3 linked regions of the Homo sapiens genome follow. The protein of the gene in region 3 interacts with the protein of the main gene of each other region in a pairwise test. Each region holds a gene or a part of one and is shown on either strand. Other genes may lie near its edges.

Region 1 (6,709 bases), on a different chromosome or scaffold from region 3:
CGAATCACCTGAGGTCAGGAATTCGAGACCAGCCTCAACGTGGAGAAACCCCGTCTCTACTAAAATACAAAAAAAATTTCGCTGGGCGTGTTGGTGCATGCCTGTAATCCCAGCTACTCGGGAGGCGGAGGCAGGAGAATTGCTTGAACCTGGGAGGCGGAGGTTGCGGTGAGCCAAGATGGCGCCATTGCACTCCAGCCTGGGCAACAAGAGCGAAACTGTCTCAAAAAAAAAAAAAAAAAAAAAAAGCCATGTTTTCATTTTAAGCCACTCATGGTTTCATCCTTGGATTCCCCATTAATTAAAAAAAAATCTCAACTATGAAACACAAAGTTTCATTATTGTTTTGATGTTAAAATAAAGCAGGCTGAACTCTCTAATCCCCAAAGAATAGAAGCACTTAGACTATAGAAAGGGAAACAAGTGTAAAGGTCTGAAATTATTTAAGAGGTTTATAGGATAATTCAAAGCAAAAATTTAGTAGCATAATGAAAGAAAAATGTGATAAAAAGACAAAGACGAACGTTCCAATTAATTTATTTAAATTCATTAATGTTGCAAAAAATATGATGTGCAACAAATCAAGACACAAGTTATATTCCTAACAGGTCAAAGAAAATATTACATCTCCTTAGTAAATCATGACCAACTCTGGTATTTCTTACAGGGACCACATTAATATCTTGCACACACAGACATCAGAACTGAATTTCTGACAGTACTCGGCTGGGCAACATCATCTTAAGAGTAGGAAAATATCACAGTACATTAATTTTGTCTAAATGACAGCAATGAACCTGTGGTAACAAAAGTATTTTTGGAATAGATATCAAAGTGTGTTAATGTCTTAACAAACTCTGAATTGTGTTCTGTGTGAATAGTGCTCCAAGGGCTGTGCAAGTCAGTGGCCCTGAACATCATCAATATTTACTAGCTAGGTTTACACAAATAAACAAGCAACTGTTAAACGGACATTAAACTTTACAAAGTCCACATACAAAAAGTGCAGTGTAGAAGCTGATGAATGTTATTTTCCAAGTTCCTCCTTAGCCAAACTGCATAAAAATTTCAAAATGCAAATATTTTAACTTCTTGTTAAACATGATTCTAAGACATCCTACAAGCCTAGTATCATTAATTTGAAAGCACGAAATGATTTTCATTTGGTGCTTACGTGCTTTATGTGAATTTTTCATAGCATTTTACTTAGTTCTCAAAACATAAATAGGTCTATTATAAATAGTTGCAACATACTGTTATATTCAAATTTTAGTGTCACTCCTTACTGTTAAACATGCCAGACTACTTTATTTTCAATTATCCTTTAGAACTTCAAAGGAAAGTTACATAACTGGGTCTCACCATTGATCTGATTCTAAGTTCATTCAGAATTTCAAGAAGGGCAGAGGGGGATGCTTGCCAGGTAATTCTTTTGTATTAGCTTAGAACATTTGAGTAGATAATACCCCACTTCCCTCACCAGTTGGCCTTCCCATTCAAGTCTAAGTTCTTGACTCTTTCTCGCAGCAACTCAAACTACACAATTCCTATGACCTATAACAAGACCAGACCTATTTTAACAGCAAAATAGGTCTAACTTGTGAGTACATACATTAATGCCTCTTTTTACTCTATCCCTCTCAGATTTGTGGTCCATTTCTCAAATGTCCATATAGGATTGGAGAAAAAACAGGCATGAAAACAAAATAGAATGGTGTAGCAATCTCTATTTTCAGCCTATCTCCTACTCCCATTTGCTTGAGCAAGTTTAACACTTCTCCACATATAACATGGAAAAAGGAAGGATGAACCTACCGTAACATCTCTACCAATCTCATCAGGAAACTGGCCTGTTCTATCTGATATGTCCTAATGCTAATTTATCACTTGAAGAAATATAAAAAGCCACTTCTGTATAAAACACATGTCCAAATTCCCTGAGCATTCACATAAACAGCCAAATAGAAATGTTATATAGTCTTTTTAAAAGGCCTCTATCAAAAAGCAGATCTCTTACCTTTTTAAATTCTGGAATTACGGTTAAAAAAATTCTAGCTACAGATATATGCTTGCCAATCAGCATATTTCAGTATTCAGTGCACTTACTAGTGATGTCCATTTTGGAAGACTAAATCAATGTTCAGCAACAGTGAAATATGAAAAAACAAAAAAACCAACCAAAAACCCTCAATCCTAAACTTTTAAGTGCTGTAACTGCTAACCTTCTCTGCTCGAACTTGCTTCTGTATGAAGAGACAAAGAAAGAGAAAATATGAATTCTTATCATGGGTATGTATTATCAACTTTTCCCCCTTCAATCCACAGTCTTTATTCACATACCTTGCGTATAGCCTGCAGGTTTTCCTGCTGCATACAAGAAATGTTACCATCAGCAGTCACATATGGTACTTCCCTTAAAAGGACACACATGGCCGGGCGTGGTGGCTCAAGCCTGTAATCCAAGCATTTGGGAGGCTGAGACAGGCAGATCATGAGGTCAGGAGTTCGAGACCAGCCTAGCATGGCGAAACCCCGTCTCTACTAAAAATACAAAAATTAGCCGGGCATTGTGGCGTGTGCCTGTAATCCCAGCTACTCAGGAGGCTGAGGCAGGAGAAATGCTTGAACCCGGGAGGCAGAGGTTGCAGTGAGCCAGGATTGCGCCACTGCACTCCAGAATGGGTGACAGAGTGAGTCTCTGTCTCCAAAAAAAAAAAAAAAAAAAGAGAGGGCACACATACAGTGGCATCTTAGGTAACAACTATGTCTTTATCTCTTTATAAAGGTTTGCTTTCTCTTACTTCCTACTTTTATCACTTTCCAATGCCTCTGCTAGACCCTACTTAGAATCATATTTCTTCATATCTCCCTCTGAGTTAAAGATTGTTAAGCTTAAATTGTGGGGTGAATAGAACGTCTTCCCTTGGTGCTTGCTTAGGAGTATGATCAAGCAGAACACAGAATCAAATTATTTCACATGAAAAACTTCTGACTAAAAAAGGGGCACTTAGAGCCTAGTGACAGAAGCATCAAATTAAGCCAGTTAAATTAGATCCATGATCCCAACAGAAAGATAAAAGTACAATCACATATACTTTCACCTTGGTCAGTAATGGGAAATTAAAATGGAATAATATGGGAAATGTTAACTTAGCTATAGATTAGAAACAACAGACTTAATAAATGCTCTTCCTCTAACCTACTATTATGATCTTAAATCTTATAAAACATTTATTGTGGGTACATCTCTATACCAGATTCCATTAAGGTGCAGGTTAAAGCAGGTATCCCTTTAGTTTACTGATTCACAGCACCTCATTTTCATTATATCCCAGGTGTTATCACTGTTGTCTCTGAATTTTAATGTTTAACAGAATAGTCTTCTACTTTTAAAAAAAATTCAGAAAAACATCACTTTTGCAACATGTATCTACAGTTAGGAGCAATGACTGCAAAATCAAAAATCAAAATAATGCAAAAAAGAGTTGAAGTTATTCTTCATATTTTTTAAACTGAAGAACCAAGTACTTAATGTGGTAGAAAACCACCTATTAAAAACCTCAGCCCATTTTGAGCAAGATAAAGATGTACAGATGAAAGACTACGTTAAATCGTCTACAAATATAGAATCTAATGACAAATTCAATATAATTGTTTATACATAATCCTTATATGGTAAATTCAGAAGGAATGCCTAACTTGTTATTGTTAGTTTGCTTCTTCAACAACAAGTGTTCCTAAAATGTGAGCAAGCAATAATCGTTTTGGCTCAATTCACTGTAATGACATTAGTTCAGGATCTGCCAAGAGCTGCTGGATCTGAGTTAAGTCAGGAGGCTGCTGAGGAATGTTTCATCCTGGGAATCCTCCAGCATCTCTCTCCTATAACTGGTTTTAAGTTAGCATGCCAAGTTTAGGACTGAGGAGGACAAAAAATATAGGAAAGTTCCCTTTTGTAACAGAAGGTTTGTAAGTACATGAGAATGGTCACAGCCACATGTGTGTTCAATCTAGGATAGACTAAATCTTGAAAGGTTAGCTCACATCCACTTCAATTTTGCTACTCTAGGCCACTGTTTTGTAAAATACCTTACAGGAAGGGTTGAAGAGTAGCCATGACCTTCAAATTTGGAAGGTATTATGCTTACCAGCTGTGTATGAGCCTTTCAAGTATATGACACAATATCAGATCAATCTGTTGTTTTAGAAATAATTTTGTCGGTAATTAAACTTTTTGTTTGGAGGCACAAACACAATTTATTTCAATGTAAAGGTACTACCAAATGAAACAGTTTAAATGCTTGTAACAAACGTGTTATCCAAAACAGCACAATATGATGATGCTAAGACTTACAAAATTAACCTAATTTACAGTATTGTCAAACATGATTTCATACAAACTTGAATAAACACCACATCTAACTAGGTCAAACAACTACCGAGTTCAAATAATTGATATGGAAGTATTTTGGTAAAGTGCCCATAGTGAGAGTTTAAAAAGCAGCCCCTGTTTTCTATAGAAAAAGTTGTGACAGTGAATAACTCATCACATTCTCTGCAATACTACTCAGCACTCATATACACTCAGGGGAGCAATACCCTGGACACATAGCTTATTTCACATTAGTGAACAAACTCAAGATTTTTATAAAGTTCTGACTTTGGGCCAGAAGATAAAATGTCCCATATATACATATATACAAACCCTAATTCCTACCCTCTTAAATCCTCTAGTTCTAAGAATGGCTTTTTGACTTGTCTTTAAGTTTAGAAAGGAAAAAGTGTGCAATGCGCTTGCATCTGTACTTGCTGAATTATGAAACAAATATGTTAAATGAGAAAAAAACCTTGGGATGGTACTAATACACTTCGATTATATACATGATCTTTGGGTATTCATGACAATCAGTTTAACCATCTGTTGCCTTATGAAAAACTTAATTTCCTAAGTTACCCAGGAAATGTATTTAACCATTTACAAAAACAAAAATTCTAATATGCACTTTAGAAAATCGTGGTCTTATATACCTGCATATTTCTTCCATAAGACAGGTACACATTAAAAAATATTGCTCAATGACATAAAAATATATATTATTTCTTTCCTTTGCCATTTATGCATATAAATATTTCACCGAAGAAGATGCATCATTCAATAAACAAATGCAAAAACTACTTTATATAAAGTGTGGTTCTCTATTTAGCAATATAAAATATAAAACGATAATAATACAGTTAGCTATTAAAGAGCTAAATTCAAGAAATTTGCAAACCAGTACAGCAGTGAACAGTCCCTTGTATAATACAAAAGTCCATTATGAAAAAGTCAAGTCTATTTTGTAACAGGTTACATAAAAATATGGGCCAATAAATGCATTATGAATGCAGAAACAGCACTGCTCCATCAGCACATTCTTCAGTCTTGTTTGGACTAGATGCCAAACTTACTGTTCATTTTTCGGTTCATCTTGTTTTCCATTAAGTTCTTGATCAACTCTGTTTAATGAAGAATATATAAAATAAGAAACCAGCAACTGAACAATTTTCTTTCTAAAAATAATGACTATTTTAGCATAGAATATTACTCTGTTAAAGACAAAGCTTTGCAAAGAAGCAGACATAGTAAAAACAGTTACCAAACATCATTTCCCCAACCAGAAAAGAGAATTTTTAAAGGCAGGAGGACACTGGCAAGAAATGTGACCGTTGTTTCTTTAAAGATTATAAAATACTTTACATACAAATGCATATAAACTTTTTTTTTTTCTTATTTTTGAGACGGAGTCTTGCTCTGTCACCCAGGCTGGAGTGCAGTGGCACAATCTCAGCTCGCTGCAATCTCCGCCTCCTGGGTTCACACCATTGTCCTGCCTCAGCCTCCCGAGTTGCTGGGACTACAGGCGCCCGCCACCATGCCCGGCTAATTTTTCGTATTTTTAGTAGAGGTGGGGTTTCACCATGTTAGCCAGGATGGTCTCGATCTCCTGACCTCGTGATCTGCCTGCCTCAGCCTCCCAAAGTGCTGGGATTACAGGCGTGAGCCACCGTGCCCAGCCATAAACTTTCTTAAAAGTTCAAATTACATGGCATATTAAAATCTTGACCTGTAACTTGGCTGTGGTAGGGATCCAGGTGGTACGAAAATGGCAGGAAAAACAACTCCCTCAAAAATGATTCTGTTAACTAAAATATGAAAATGCCATGAAGGCCACCAATTATCAATCAATATTTTAAAATTCAGTGATAAAAAATGCATCCTTATAGAACCCATAATTATTCTCCAAAACTTATTGGTACACAGTTTGTGAATGCCTTAAATTTGTTTTGACAGTAAGAAGCCTTAAGAATTTAACATTCAAGGCCGGATGCCGTGGCTCACGCCTGTAATCCCAGCACTTTGGGAGGCCTAGGCGGGTGGATCACGAGGTCAGGAGTTCGAGACCAGCCTGGCCAACACAGTGAAACCCCATCTCTACTAAAAATACAAAAATTAGCCAGGTGTGGTGGTACGCGTCTGTAGTCCCAGCTACTTGGGAGGCTGAGGTAGGAGAACCGCTTGAACCCAGGAGGCAGAGCTTGCAGTGAGCTGAGACCATGCCATTGCACTCCAGACTGGGTGACAGAGTGAGACTCCGTCTTAAAAAAATAAATAAAATAAAAAAAAAGAATTTAACATTCAAAAATATCTAATATAAATTAATTATTGGCT
Region 2 (4,600 bases), on a different chromosome or scaffold from region 3:
ACCCTTCCCTGCTCAGATGTGAGTCCTTATTCTGCAACAGACACTAGGGATGTGGAGAGGCAGTGTTTTAAAAGACAGCAAAGATATATTATGGTGTCACTTTTTGTAAATGAAAATAGGCTGAATTCATATCACCCAGATTACGTTAATGATTGGCCTGGTATCCGAAGTCGAGGTTCCAAATTTGAACAGAATATCTTCATGGGGAAACAGGCCTCACTGGGACCAAATGCTGACATAAAACTCAGAACTTATTAATCATCACTATAAACCCAGTTTTTCCATTCCCAGTTCCCAGGTCATGATACTCTGCCATGAATTTAAATGCAGATGAAAGATCTATTATTAATCTTATTCTCAATTTTTTTTCTTTTTAGTTCTTCTTAACTTTCACAATCTTAATAGATTATGAAATAATTCATATGGGCTTATAGAATACCTTTCTTAAGGAAGATACATGAAAGACAAAGAATTTAAAATGTAAATCAGGTTCATTAAAATATAACTCAGATGTTACCAGGTGCATAGTGAAAAAGTTTATTTATGACAGATTCGAAAACTCAGAAGAGATGACAAAGAATGCACAAAAGCATCACAAAACTGTTACCTAATATAAAACGCAAGAACTGAGCTACTTGAAGAAGCACAGCTCAGAATCATCAGTGTAATCGCAGTAACACACCCAGTGCCACAGGGTGATAAAAATGGTATTTTAAAAGAAAAACCACTCAGCAGGACACAAGAATTAAAGTAACAATTTGGTAAGACTCTTAGAAATCACAGATGTTGATAGCATTTCTCATGATAGGGGACATGTAAAACAAGCTGACCATAATAAATGATTAGTTGGGATACTTTTGTATTTTAAAGAAAAAAGATAAAACAGTGACACGGTTTCCCTTCCAGACCCTTTTTGTAATGTCAGCAACAGTACATGATATAGAACAGTAAGAAAATAATGTCTTTGTAGTTGCCAATTGCTTAAATCTTTACGAAGAAAACATGATCATCTTTCAGTCAACTGACTGATCTGAGTACATGGCACCAAAGAAAGCCCTTCAGAAAATAGAAGCTAAATGACATAAAGTAGTTTGGAAAATCTTCAAGCACCTCCCTTTATTCCAATTATCCTTTTCCAAAGTCTGGCTTTCTTATAATCCATCACTTTGATTACAAAACAGCTCTCTTCTGGGAATTTCAAAACACTTCCCGTTACGTTAAGGGAAAATGGGTACACCAGATTCATGGGTTACAGGATTGCTTTCTCTAGACTTGGCTTCTCTTTAACATGGCTAAATGGAAATAATTTAGCTTGGTTAAATGAAAGCTACTTCACTTACAGGATAATCTCAGGAGACATGAGTGGAGTTTTTCATATGGAATTTCTTAGTAAAATGTACTGTTTAGGATATGAGAGACGGAATTAAGATAATGTTTTCCAGATGATTCTTGGCCTGATCCTAAGAATCAACAATAACAATCAATAGCAAGGAACATTACACATTCAACCCTGAGTGATGAAGAGAGTTCAGGAAGAGAGCCCCTTAAACTCTGAATTAAGGGCTCTTTGGTAATATCATATACTATAATATTTCAAACCAAAACTTCAGAAGGGTTCATGATCCTATTTCAGGACTTTAGAAAATATACTTTGTCCTCTGGAAGCAATTTCACATATATTATTTTGCCCCCAGATAAGCCACAACTACCTGCTTAAATTTTTTTTTAAACTATGGAATTAAATAAACATGCATCTCTAGATTTCTAGGGCAACTTTTCATCATATCTTTGAAGAGTCATGACATTAACTCTGGTCCACATACCTGGGGCCTAAAAAAATCAGGTACATATAATAGGAATCACATCATGAGCCTAATTTCAAAGCCAGTGTCTTGCCTTTGGACTGTGTGTGTGAGGCATGCCTATTTGTAAATGAGCTCCACTATCATTGGTTTTAGGCAATAGTGTTTTCTTAGCTTAGAAATTTCTTACCTTAAGAATTCAAACAGGAGGGGCTTTGTTTAGCCTTCTTGGTTTAGGCAGGGACAATGCAACACTTGAGAGGCAGCAGTGATTTCTGAGCAAAATTCTAAGATATATTCGATAGGTTTGCTCTCCCCTCCCCCCATACTCCTACCCTTTGCCCCCTAATTTTATTTTGTTTTCCCTCGTTGTGATCAATTTTAAAAGACAGTTCTCAAGCAGCACAAAACGGTGTAACTTATGCCCCTCCCTTATGCTCCACTAAAACAAGTCTCTTATGTAAATATTAGGGTCACTCAATTCCACACCTTAGAACCACTGGGGTTAAAAGGCAACCTTCTGCAGATAAGTGGTCTTAACAAACAAATATAAAAGCAGACTTTAGAGTCTGGGTTTCAACTAATTCTCTCAAAGAGGGACTGAGCAGGACTCATAAACATAAACTCATATTCCCTACAGATTAAGACTTTTTATGATAATACCTAATTCTACTGCTTAATATAAGACAGCGTTCAGATTTCACTCTTCCATATACATATTATAATGGGACAATATACACTTTTTTAAAAGTCTGAGTTTTTCTTCCCAAAATAACAAAAATATTTTTTAAAGTGCATGTATCAATTCATTAAGAAAAAAATAACTAAGAATGGTCTAATTCCAAATTGCTACCTACTTCCATGATAAAGCTACCTGTTATCTAAGGATTGAGTTTTAATATCAGAGTCCTGAGGACATGTCATCAAGCAACAGAGGTTAGCATAAAGCCCTTCCGGAGCAGCTTCACAATCACTCTTGTACTGACATGCCAGTTAGTAAGGAAAACAGCAGAGATCATGGCCTGAGGGAAGGGGAAAATACAGCACAGATGTATTTTCTTGAAAGATGGAGACCAAGAAACAATTTTTTTTTTTTTGAGACGGAATCTTGCTCTGTTGCCCAGTCTGGAGTGCAGTGGCATGATCTCGGCTCGCTGCAACCTCTGCCTCCTGGGCTCAAGAAATTCTCCCTGCTTCTGCCTCCAGAGTAGCTGGGATTACAGATGCCCGCCACCACGCCCAGCTAATTTTTTGTATTTTTAGTAGCGACGGAGTTTCACTATGTTGGCCAGGCTGGTCTCGAACTCCTGGCCTAAGGTGGTCTGCCCACCTTGGCCTCCCAAAGTGCTGGGATTACAGGCGTGGGCCACGGCGCCTGGCCTCCAAGAAACATTTTTATGAAGACCACCTCCTGGGTAACCCATGTTGAATGAAACAGGTCTGCTAAAAATCAGGGGCTCTCCAACAGAGCCGATATGCAGGGGACATTCTCAGCATTCTCTAATTGGACACTTGTCAAAAGGAACAGAATGTTAGAATCATCTTTGCCTAGGAATTGGTAGTTTAAAATTTTTACATTTATGCGGGGAGTGTGTGTATACATATATATACAGCAAACCAAAAATAAATTCTAAATCCCCCAACCGGCTGAATGGACCCCTGTCTTGGCCCAGGGGATCTCAAAGGAACCTGAAAAACTAGTCCATGATGGGAAGACAGGGTGCCTCATATTATGGTCAGATTACAGGGTGCCTCATATTACCCTCTTCCCTTTGGAATTTAAATACAACTGACCAGCATTAACATTAAAACAGAGATCTTAAGACTAACCAAACAGACCCTTTGTGGCAATAAAATACCAAATCCCAACCTGACTCTGGTATAGCATCACATGACAGCAGGCCCCAAAGGAAATTTACCCCCCAATATATTTATTTGACGTATTTTGAAATGGCCCTACAAAGCTGTCTCTTGTGGGGGAAACTGCATTCTGTAGAGAATCTCCTTCTCTTATTAGGTCTTTTCTGGAGAGTCTGACACCTTTTAAGGCCTAAAAAGAAAAATTCATCATCTGTTCTCTCTGAAGCCTGCTACCTGGAGGCTTCATCTACATGACTTAAGCCAAGCCTCCCTTACTTTAACTTAAGCTGACTTCATCTTTTCAGGTAAAGTTTAACTCTCTCAACCAACTGCCAGTCAGGAACTCTTTGATCTACCTCTGACCTGGAAACCCCCATCTTCAAGATGTCCTGCCTTTCCAGGCCAAACCAGTGTATACCTTACATGTATTGATTTATGGCTTTGCCTGGACCTTCTGTCTCCCTCAAATGTATAAAACTGTAACCCGACTACCTCGGGCACATGTTCTAAGAACCTCCTGAGGCCCCATCATGGGCTCTGAACCTTGGCAAAATAAACCTCTAAATGTATTGAGACCTGTCTCAGATACTTTTTGGTTTACAATATATTTATATTTCTTTTAAGCTGTTTGCTGAAATTTTTTCACAATAAAACACTGGGGGAAAAGAAATCAATACTTTAAATATGTCTTCCTTTCTAAAAGGCCCATCTCTCAACAAAGTGGCAAAACTAAAACTAAAGAAATTTAAGAACTCAGTCACTATAGAGAATTCCAATCTCTCTCCTACTATGAAGCACTTTCTTTCAATTGTTTGTTACTATTTGTTTGTGCTCTAGAGAACAGGGTGAGGATCAAAGCAAACGGTTTTCATTTCATTGTTTGGGTCTATAAATTTGGACTGGGAGGGGCTGAGGAAATGACTGTCTCTTAGAATTTG
Region 3 (7,664 bases):
CCAAATCTCTCATCATGAAGGATCTGGAAACAGATGGAACATAATGGAGGCAAATATTTATTTTAAAGATAAGTTACTTCATGCACATTTCCACATGATGACCTCACATACTTGTAGCTCTAGTAAGATAGCAGTAGATTCTAGCACTAATAGAGTGAATCAAGTGAAGCTATTCCTGTACAGCTGAAACCTAAAATCCCTATTTTTTTTCTAAAACACTCACCACCCTTTCATTTTTACAAGGGGTTTTACATTTTACACCCTCTCATTTTTACATTTTACATTTTTACAATGTGCTCTTGACCAGTAACCTCCTCTGAGCCTCAATGCCCCTAACTATCCCTCCTACACATTCTAAGCACTTTTGAGGGTTTGGAGATGGAAGATAATTACATTTCAATATCTTCTTAAGCAATTTTTATGTTTGCTGGATACCTTCAAATACTTGAATGAAAATACAAGAGCAAGATAAAAGTTCTTACAAAAATTACTAAATACATGCTTCAGTCATACAGAGCCCTCGGGCACAGTAAAGTTTAAGGTATGACATGAAATTGCGTACCAAAACCTCCAAATAGGTCTTTTTTATTTTATTTTATTTTTTGAGACAGAGTCTCGCTCTTGTTGCCCAGGCTGGAGTGCAACACTGGGCTCGGCTCACTGCAACCTCCACCTCCCAGGTTCAAGTGATTCTCTTGCCTCAGCCTCCCGAGTAGCTGAGATTACAGGAACCCGCCACCACGCCCAGCTAATTTTGTGTATTTTTAGTAGAGATGGGGTTTCGCCATGTTGGCCAGGCTGATCTCAAACTCCTGATCTCAGGTGATCCATCCATCTCAGCCTCCCAAAGTGCTAGGATTACAGGCATGAGCCACCACGCCCGGCTGGTCTTTTCTGTTTTCTAACTTTAAATATATACAGATACAATTTTAATAAACATGCAATAAATAGTGGATTTTAAACTAGGCCTCAAAAAAGTTCATATGTATAAACAGTCTTTAAAACAGTAAGGCTTTCCCATTTTATTTCTCAGGTGAATGGGATATCTAGTTTCAAAAATTAAGAACTTGAGAGTTCATGTGAGAAATACTTGTAATTAATATACTATTCTCTCATTTAATCTGTGGTGACTTCTAAGATGAATAGAAAACCCACTTTCAGGCATTTTTTAAGAACCTGATATTCTAAAGTTCTCAACACTCACTCAATCAAGTTGCAGTATTCTCAGTTTAAGAGGTATGACCATAATACAAAGACAGAATTTCACAAGCAGCTTGTACAAACCTTAAATTTCAAAATATAAGCACACTTTCCCCGACCTTTAACCACTTCACCAAACTGCTCCTCATTGACCCAACTGGACTAATGCCATTCAGAACTGGAAGAGCAGGGGATATGGCAGTAGGAAGGCAATTTGCCCAACATTGTATATACCCTCTGCTCCTTAGGTCAAATCCTACACAGATAGGCTCACTTCGGATAGAAGTCTCTAGGGTAAGAAACTTCTGTTAATACTCCCACTGTTTCCTCCTGAAAACAAACACCTCAGAGTTCCAGTCGCGTAGGTACAGCCATACAGACATGTTCTCAGGGTTGAGGTGAGGGCAGCTGAGCTAGATAACTAGCAAAGGCTCAGTGATATGCACGACACTAGTTTGTAAAGACTCACAGATCCACTCCCGTAACCTGCCACTGGCTCATCTATAAATTAAGGGTACTAAACTTCTTCATAGGTTTCTTGCATCTAATAGGGCACAACAGCATGAAAAAAACTTAAAATTCTATATAAACACAACCCCACCAAAGTGAGCCAGCTTGGAGGTTTAAGGAAGCCCATTACTTGGCCTGGATTTCTCACAGGGAACTGACAGGGAACCTGAAACATTCTGTCTCAGTCCACAACAGCTGTGTCATTTGATCCCTGGCCAGCTAACACCTGGTTTCTGCATGTACCAAGTGGCAGGACACCTCCTAAGAGTGACCTATGAAGGATAAATCACTTCACTTTTATACTTAGATCCTAACATCCTTCCTACAGGAATATTTGGTGAATTACCCAGTCTGACAAATAGCTGAGGCATGGGGAAAAATAACCTGCCACAATTTGAGAACACACACACAGACTGAATGACACAGGGGGAATCCTACAGCTGAGCTAGACAGATGAAGATGCATCTGGCTCATTTAACAGGTGAGAGAACCCAGTCTCAGAAGTTAAATGACTTGCCCAGACTGACAGCAAATGAATGGCAGCTACAGTGAACCTCAGAACCCGGTGTTCTAACGTTACCTCGGTCGAGACTTGTTTTTACTTAAGCTTTGCAATGAAGATTTTTGTTTTAACACGAGCATCCCATGGACAAATAACCTCTCAAACCTGGAAATACAAATGCCATTAAATTCCCAACAGTCATTAGAAGCTAATAAGCATCTGCTGAGACACACTTTTATTTCTAAGTCACTAAACCCAAGTCTCGGCAAACAGGAAGCTGTCGTAGCCCACTCCAGGTACAGGGAAGGTAAACATCCTCACTTCCCACGGGGCTCCACGGGCTGCCTCTGAGTCCACGGGTCCATTCAGGCCCATCTCCCCACAGCTCCTAGGCAATTCGGCAGAAAACTGGTCTCCCTAGGCACAACTGTGCACGAGGTACGGATCACGCGAGGTGCGGATCACGCACGCTCCGGGTCACACAGGGAGCTAAAGATAGCTGCGCCGCACCTGGGGCAGCCTCGCCCGGGGATGTGCCCGGCCCCGTCCCGCTCCCTCCGGCCCCTTCCCATAAGGGGTCCTCGCCGGTAGCCCCACCAACCCACGCTCGGGCCCTGCCTGCCCTCCCGGTCCCTGCCACTCAGAATGGGCGGCGCGGCGGCCCCGAGGCCTAGCTCGGCTGAGCCCGCACCTACCCACAGCTCCGCCGCCGCGGCTCCGGCCCTGCCCCTAGCCCACCGCAGGCCAGCTCCGCCGGGGCGCTTCCAGGGCCGGGGCCGCTGCGCCCGCACTGGGCATGCCCGGGCCGCACGGGGCCGCTGGGAAGTCGGGCGAGCGCGAAGAACCAGCCGGCACCACGAGGCGGGGCCCAGAGCCGAAGGGGTGGGCCGCGCGGAGCGACGGAGACTGGGAAATGTAGTCAGTCCGGGGTCCCGCCTCGCGCTGCGTGCGGGATCGTCCGGCTCCCAACTCCGCCTGGCGGCGGAGAGGACCCCTCACCCCTCCGCGTCGCCTCCTCCCCGTCGCCTCCTCGCCGATCCCGTTCTCACAGATCTCTCCTCCTGTTCTTTGCCCTCCCCCATTGACTCCACAACGCTGCTTGCGTTTCTAAAATCCTGTGAAATTAGTAACAGGATGCCTTTAATCCCAGCATTTTGGGAGGCCAAGGCAGGCAGATCACGAGGTCAGGAGTTCAAGACCAGCCTGGCCAACATAGCGAAACCCCATCTCTACTAAAATAACAAAAATTAGCCAGGTGTGGTGGTACCTGCCTGTGGTCCCAGCTACTCAGGAGGCTGAGGCAGGAGAATTACTTGAACTCAGGGGATGAAGGTTGCAGTGAGCCGAGATCACACCACTGCACTCCTGCCTGGGCGACTGAGCAAGACTCAGTCTCAAAATAATAATAATAATAATAAATTTAAAAAATGAAATAAAATAAGTGGCTGGGCACGGTGGCTCATGCGTGTAACCTCAGCACTTTGGGAAGCTGAGGCGGGCAGATCACTTGAGGCCACCCTGGCCAAGATGGTGAAATCCCGTCTCTACTAAAAATACAAAAAATTAGCTGGGCATGGTGGCACACACCTGTGGTCCCAGCTACTTGGTCGGCTAAGGAATGAGAATCACTTCAATTCAGGAGGCAGAGGTTGCGGTGAGCCGAGATCGCACTACTGCACTTCAGCCTGGGTGACACAGCTAGACTGTCTCGAAAAATAAAATAAAATAAAACAAAACAAAACAATATAAAATAGAATAGAATAAGGAATCCATCTACTAAAGCTTAGAAATCTTGTTACAAAGAGACCTAAGTGGTTTAATGACAAACTGATTATTGTGCTATTAATTATAATAATAGCTCTTCCTCCAAGCTCTATTCTTTCTCAAGAGTGTCAATTTAGAAAAGATTTTAGAAAGAATTTAGTAGGTATGAGTTTATTCTGGCTTACTTCATGGGAGGAAATCTTTTTTTTTTTTTTTTTTTGAGACTGAGTCTGTCTTTGTCTCCCAGGCTGGAGTGCAGTGGTGCGATCTCGGCTCACTGCAAGCTCCGCCCCCTGGGTTCACGCCATTCTCCTGCCTCAGCCTCCTGAGTAGCTGGGACTACAGGCACCTGCCACCAAGCATGGCTAATTTTTTTGTATTTTTAGTAGAGACGGGGTTTCACCGTGTTAGCCAGGATGGTCTCGATCTCCTGACCTCGTGGTCCGCCCACCTACAGCCTCCCAAAGTGCTGGGATTACAGGCGTGAGCCACTGCGCCTGGCCGGGAGGAAATCTTTTAAATCTCAACATGTATAACCACATTTAAAATAAAAACCAATAATAATTAATACCTTGCATTTTTAAAGAGCTCTCACATGCTTATGTATGATTAGATGCTATTTGTGGACAAGTAGAGGATATTATTTTCCAAATTTCACAAATGAGGAAGTTTGTGGCAGAGCACTTTGAGAAGACATGACCTCCAGTTAAGCTGTGAACCTTAGTTTCTTTTTTTTTTTTTTTTTTTTTTTGAGACAGTGTCTCTCTATCTTGGCTCACTGCAAGCTCCACCTCCCGGGTTCACACCATTCTCCTGTCTCAGCCTCCCAAGTAGCTGGGACTACAGGTGCCCGCCACCACGCCCGGCTAATTTTTTGTATTTTTAGTAGAGACGGGGTTTCACCATGTTAGCCAGGATGGTCTCGATCTTCTGACCTCGTGATCCACCCGCCTTGGCCTCCCAAAGTGCTGGGATTACAGGTGTGAGCCAGCACGCCTGGCCCAAACCTTAGTTTCTTTAACACAGGCTGCTGAAATAAATGGTATATATATGAAGGTGTTTTTTAACTGTATGGATATATGATTTAGTGAAATGATAACAATACTAGATCTAGTGATAGCGACAGGAGACAGCCAAATGCCTAGGCAGTTAGTGGCGGGTCCCCATTGAAACCCCACCTCCAAGCCAAAAACAGTTTAAAGCTCGAAAGCCAAGCTACAAGTTAAGTCCTCAGACCAGATTGAGAACTTGTCTTCCTGTCTTGCATGTTTTCCTCTGATTGATCCCCACCCTTCACCTATTTTACATATACCTACCCTTTCCTGATTGGTTTTCTACACTGTTGTGCCCACCTTTGAGTGGTGCCTTTGCTTTAACCTTTCTTGCATAGCCACAAACCAATCTGCACATACTCCCCATCCTGTGCCTATAAGGACCCCTGACTTAGTCAGTAGAGTGGGAGACCGCCTGACTTTGAGGAAGACGACCTGCCCTTCCTGTCCCTTCTCCAGCTCCCCTCACTGCTGAGACTCGTTTTCATCACTAAAAAAAATTCTCTGCCCTCAACATCCTTCTTTGTTTTTTTCTTTGTTTTTTTTTTTGAGACAGAGTCTTGCTCTGTCACCCAGGCTGGAGTGCAATGGTGCAATCTCAGCTCACTGCAACCTATGCCTCCTGGGTTCAAGCAATTCTCCTGCCTCAGCCTCCTAAGTAGCTGGGATTATAGGCACCTGCCACCACGCCCAGCTAAGTTTTTGTATTTTTAGTAGAGATGGGGTTTCACCATGTTGGCCAGGCTGATCTCAAACTCCTGACCTCAGGTGATCCACCCACCTCAGGCTCTCAAAGTGTTGAGATTACTGGCGTGAGCCACCGCACCTGGCCCGCCATCCTTCAATCCTGCATGTGACCTCATTCTTCTTGGACACTGGACAAGAGCTTGGGACCCACCAAGTACAGGTACCCAGAAAGGCTGTCACACTGGTCCTTTGCCCCCACCAGTGGAAGGCAGCTGCCCCACGTGACAAGGCAAAGGGCCAACTGAGCTACTAACACACTGCTGTTTGTGGATGATGAAACTAAAGGAGCACTGTAACACCCGCTCTGAGGCTTCAGGGTCATGGGCACTTTCACCTGGGCACTGCAGTGTTCCTCTTGAGGCAACATGCCTGGTCTGGCCACAGGCCCCACACAGAGCTTGCTCCTGTGCCAGTGCCCAGAGTGGCTGGCTGGATCTTGAACTTGCTTGCTCATGTGCTCCCTCCTGCAAGTGGTTGATTGTGGTGGGCCTGGTAGACAAGGCGCCCCCTTCCATGAGTTTGTCAAAGGGGCCAAGAAAAATCCTGCATCATTAGGGGCCAGATCTCCTAGCTTCCAGCCTTGGAATCTTCTAGGAGAGAGAGATACTATGATTTATTAAGCATCTACTATACCAAGCCTTTTATATTTATTATTTCAACAACAATTTAAGTGTTGTAATGAAAAATTATCACTATTTTTTTTTGTTTTTGAGATAGAGTCTCACTCTGACACTCAGGCTGGAGTACAGTGGCATGATCATGGCTCACTGAAGCCTTGACCTCCTGGGCCTAAGCAATCCTCTTGCCTCAGCCTCCTGAGTAGCTGTTGTAGCTGATTTAAAAAAAAATTCCATGCCTTCCTATTAAGAAAAAAAAACTCCAACCAGGTTTGTCTAACGCCCGATTCCACACCCTTTCCTCTACCATATTTGTGTTCCATTATGGATCACAAAAGTCTTCTCATTTAAATTTAGGTTGTGTATTGTCATTATTAAAGTAGTGCTCCTCTTTGTTTTGCCTGTGGTTGCTAAAAGAAAAAAAGAGAGAGAGAAAGAAAATAATGAAAGTGTTGGCCAGTATGGTGGCTCATGCCTGTAATCCCAGTACTTTGGGAGGCAGAGGCGGGTGGATCACCTGAGGTCAGAAGTTTGAGACCAGCCTGAACAACATGGTGAAACCCTGTCTCTTCTAAAAATACAAAAATTAGCCTGGTGTGGTTGTGCACACCTGTAGTCCCAGCTACTCAGGAGGCTGATGCAGGAGAATCACTTGAACCTGGGAGGTGGAGGTTGCAGTGAGCTGAGATTGTGCCACTGCACTCCAGCCTGGGCACTAGAGCGAGACTCTGTCTCAAAAAAAAAAAAAACAAAAAAAAACTGCCATTCCTCATGGGTCTTACAGATGCAACTCCCTGCTGGGAACTCAAGCCCTTTTTTTTGCCAGGAAAGGTAAAATCATCTGGGGGTAGAACCAAAAAATGTACAGGTTAATAGAATTATGAAATTTAAGATGTTTAAACAGGGTTTATGTAACGTAGTTGTAATCTCTTTGCCTAAATGTCTTATGAAAATGGGTATTGTATCTAGCTGGAGGATGCTTCCCCTATCTAGTACTATAAAACCAAAGACATGTAAAGCTGCTCTTTTGAAAAGTGTTAGTTGGACATGTTAATGGGAAATAGTAAAATCACCTGAGCCCACAAAGTATCAGGTAGAAGCTAGAGTACTAGTTGGGACAAATCATCCCCTTCATAGCCCTTTGTGGAGTGTTTATTGGGGATAATGGCAAAAAACAAAACAAAACAAAAAACTCTTATAAGTACTTCCCAATGACAACTACCGGACTAGAGAATTTCCACTTGAGGTGCATTTACTGCCTTGCTATGAAAT

Evidence for each region. Proteins that work in one complex are often made in the same cells at the same time.
Region 1: the proteins of EI24 (region 3) and BNIP2 interact in binary tests that used the Homo sapiens proteins (3 or more experiments, as listed by UniProt).
Region 2: the proteins of EI24 (region 3) and TMED8 interact in binary tests that used the Homo sapiens proteins (3 or more experiments, as listed by UniProt).

Annotation. Positions count from the first base shown.
Region 1 is NC_000015.10:59,658,625-59,665,333, forward strand, and holds the end of BNIP2 (BCL2/adenovirus E1B 19 kDa protein-interacting protein 2), read right to left. Parts: intron 5,497-6,709; coding exon 5,445-5,496; 3' UTR 522-5,444; downstream 1-521.
Region 2 is NC_000014.9:77,334,508-77,339,107, forward strand, and holds the end of TMED8 (protein TMED8), read right to left. Parts: 3' UTR 522-4,600; downstream 1-521.
Region 3 is NC_000011.10:125,564,817-125,572,480, reverse strand, and holds the start of EI24 (etoposide-induced protein 2.4 homolog), read right to left. Parts: upstream 3,005-7,664; 5' UTR 2,908-3,004; intron 2,378-2,907; exon of another isoform or gene 2,291-2,377; intron 2,192-2,290; exon of another isoform or gene 2,039-2,191; intron 24-2,038; 5' UTR 1-23. UniProt on the Homo sapiens protein: Acts as a negative growth regulator via p53-mediated apoptosis pathway. Regulates formation of degradative autolysosomes during autophagy.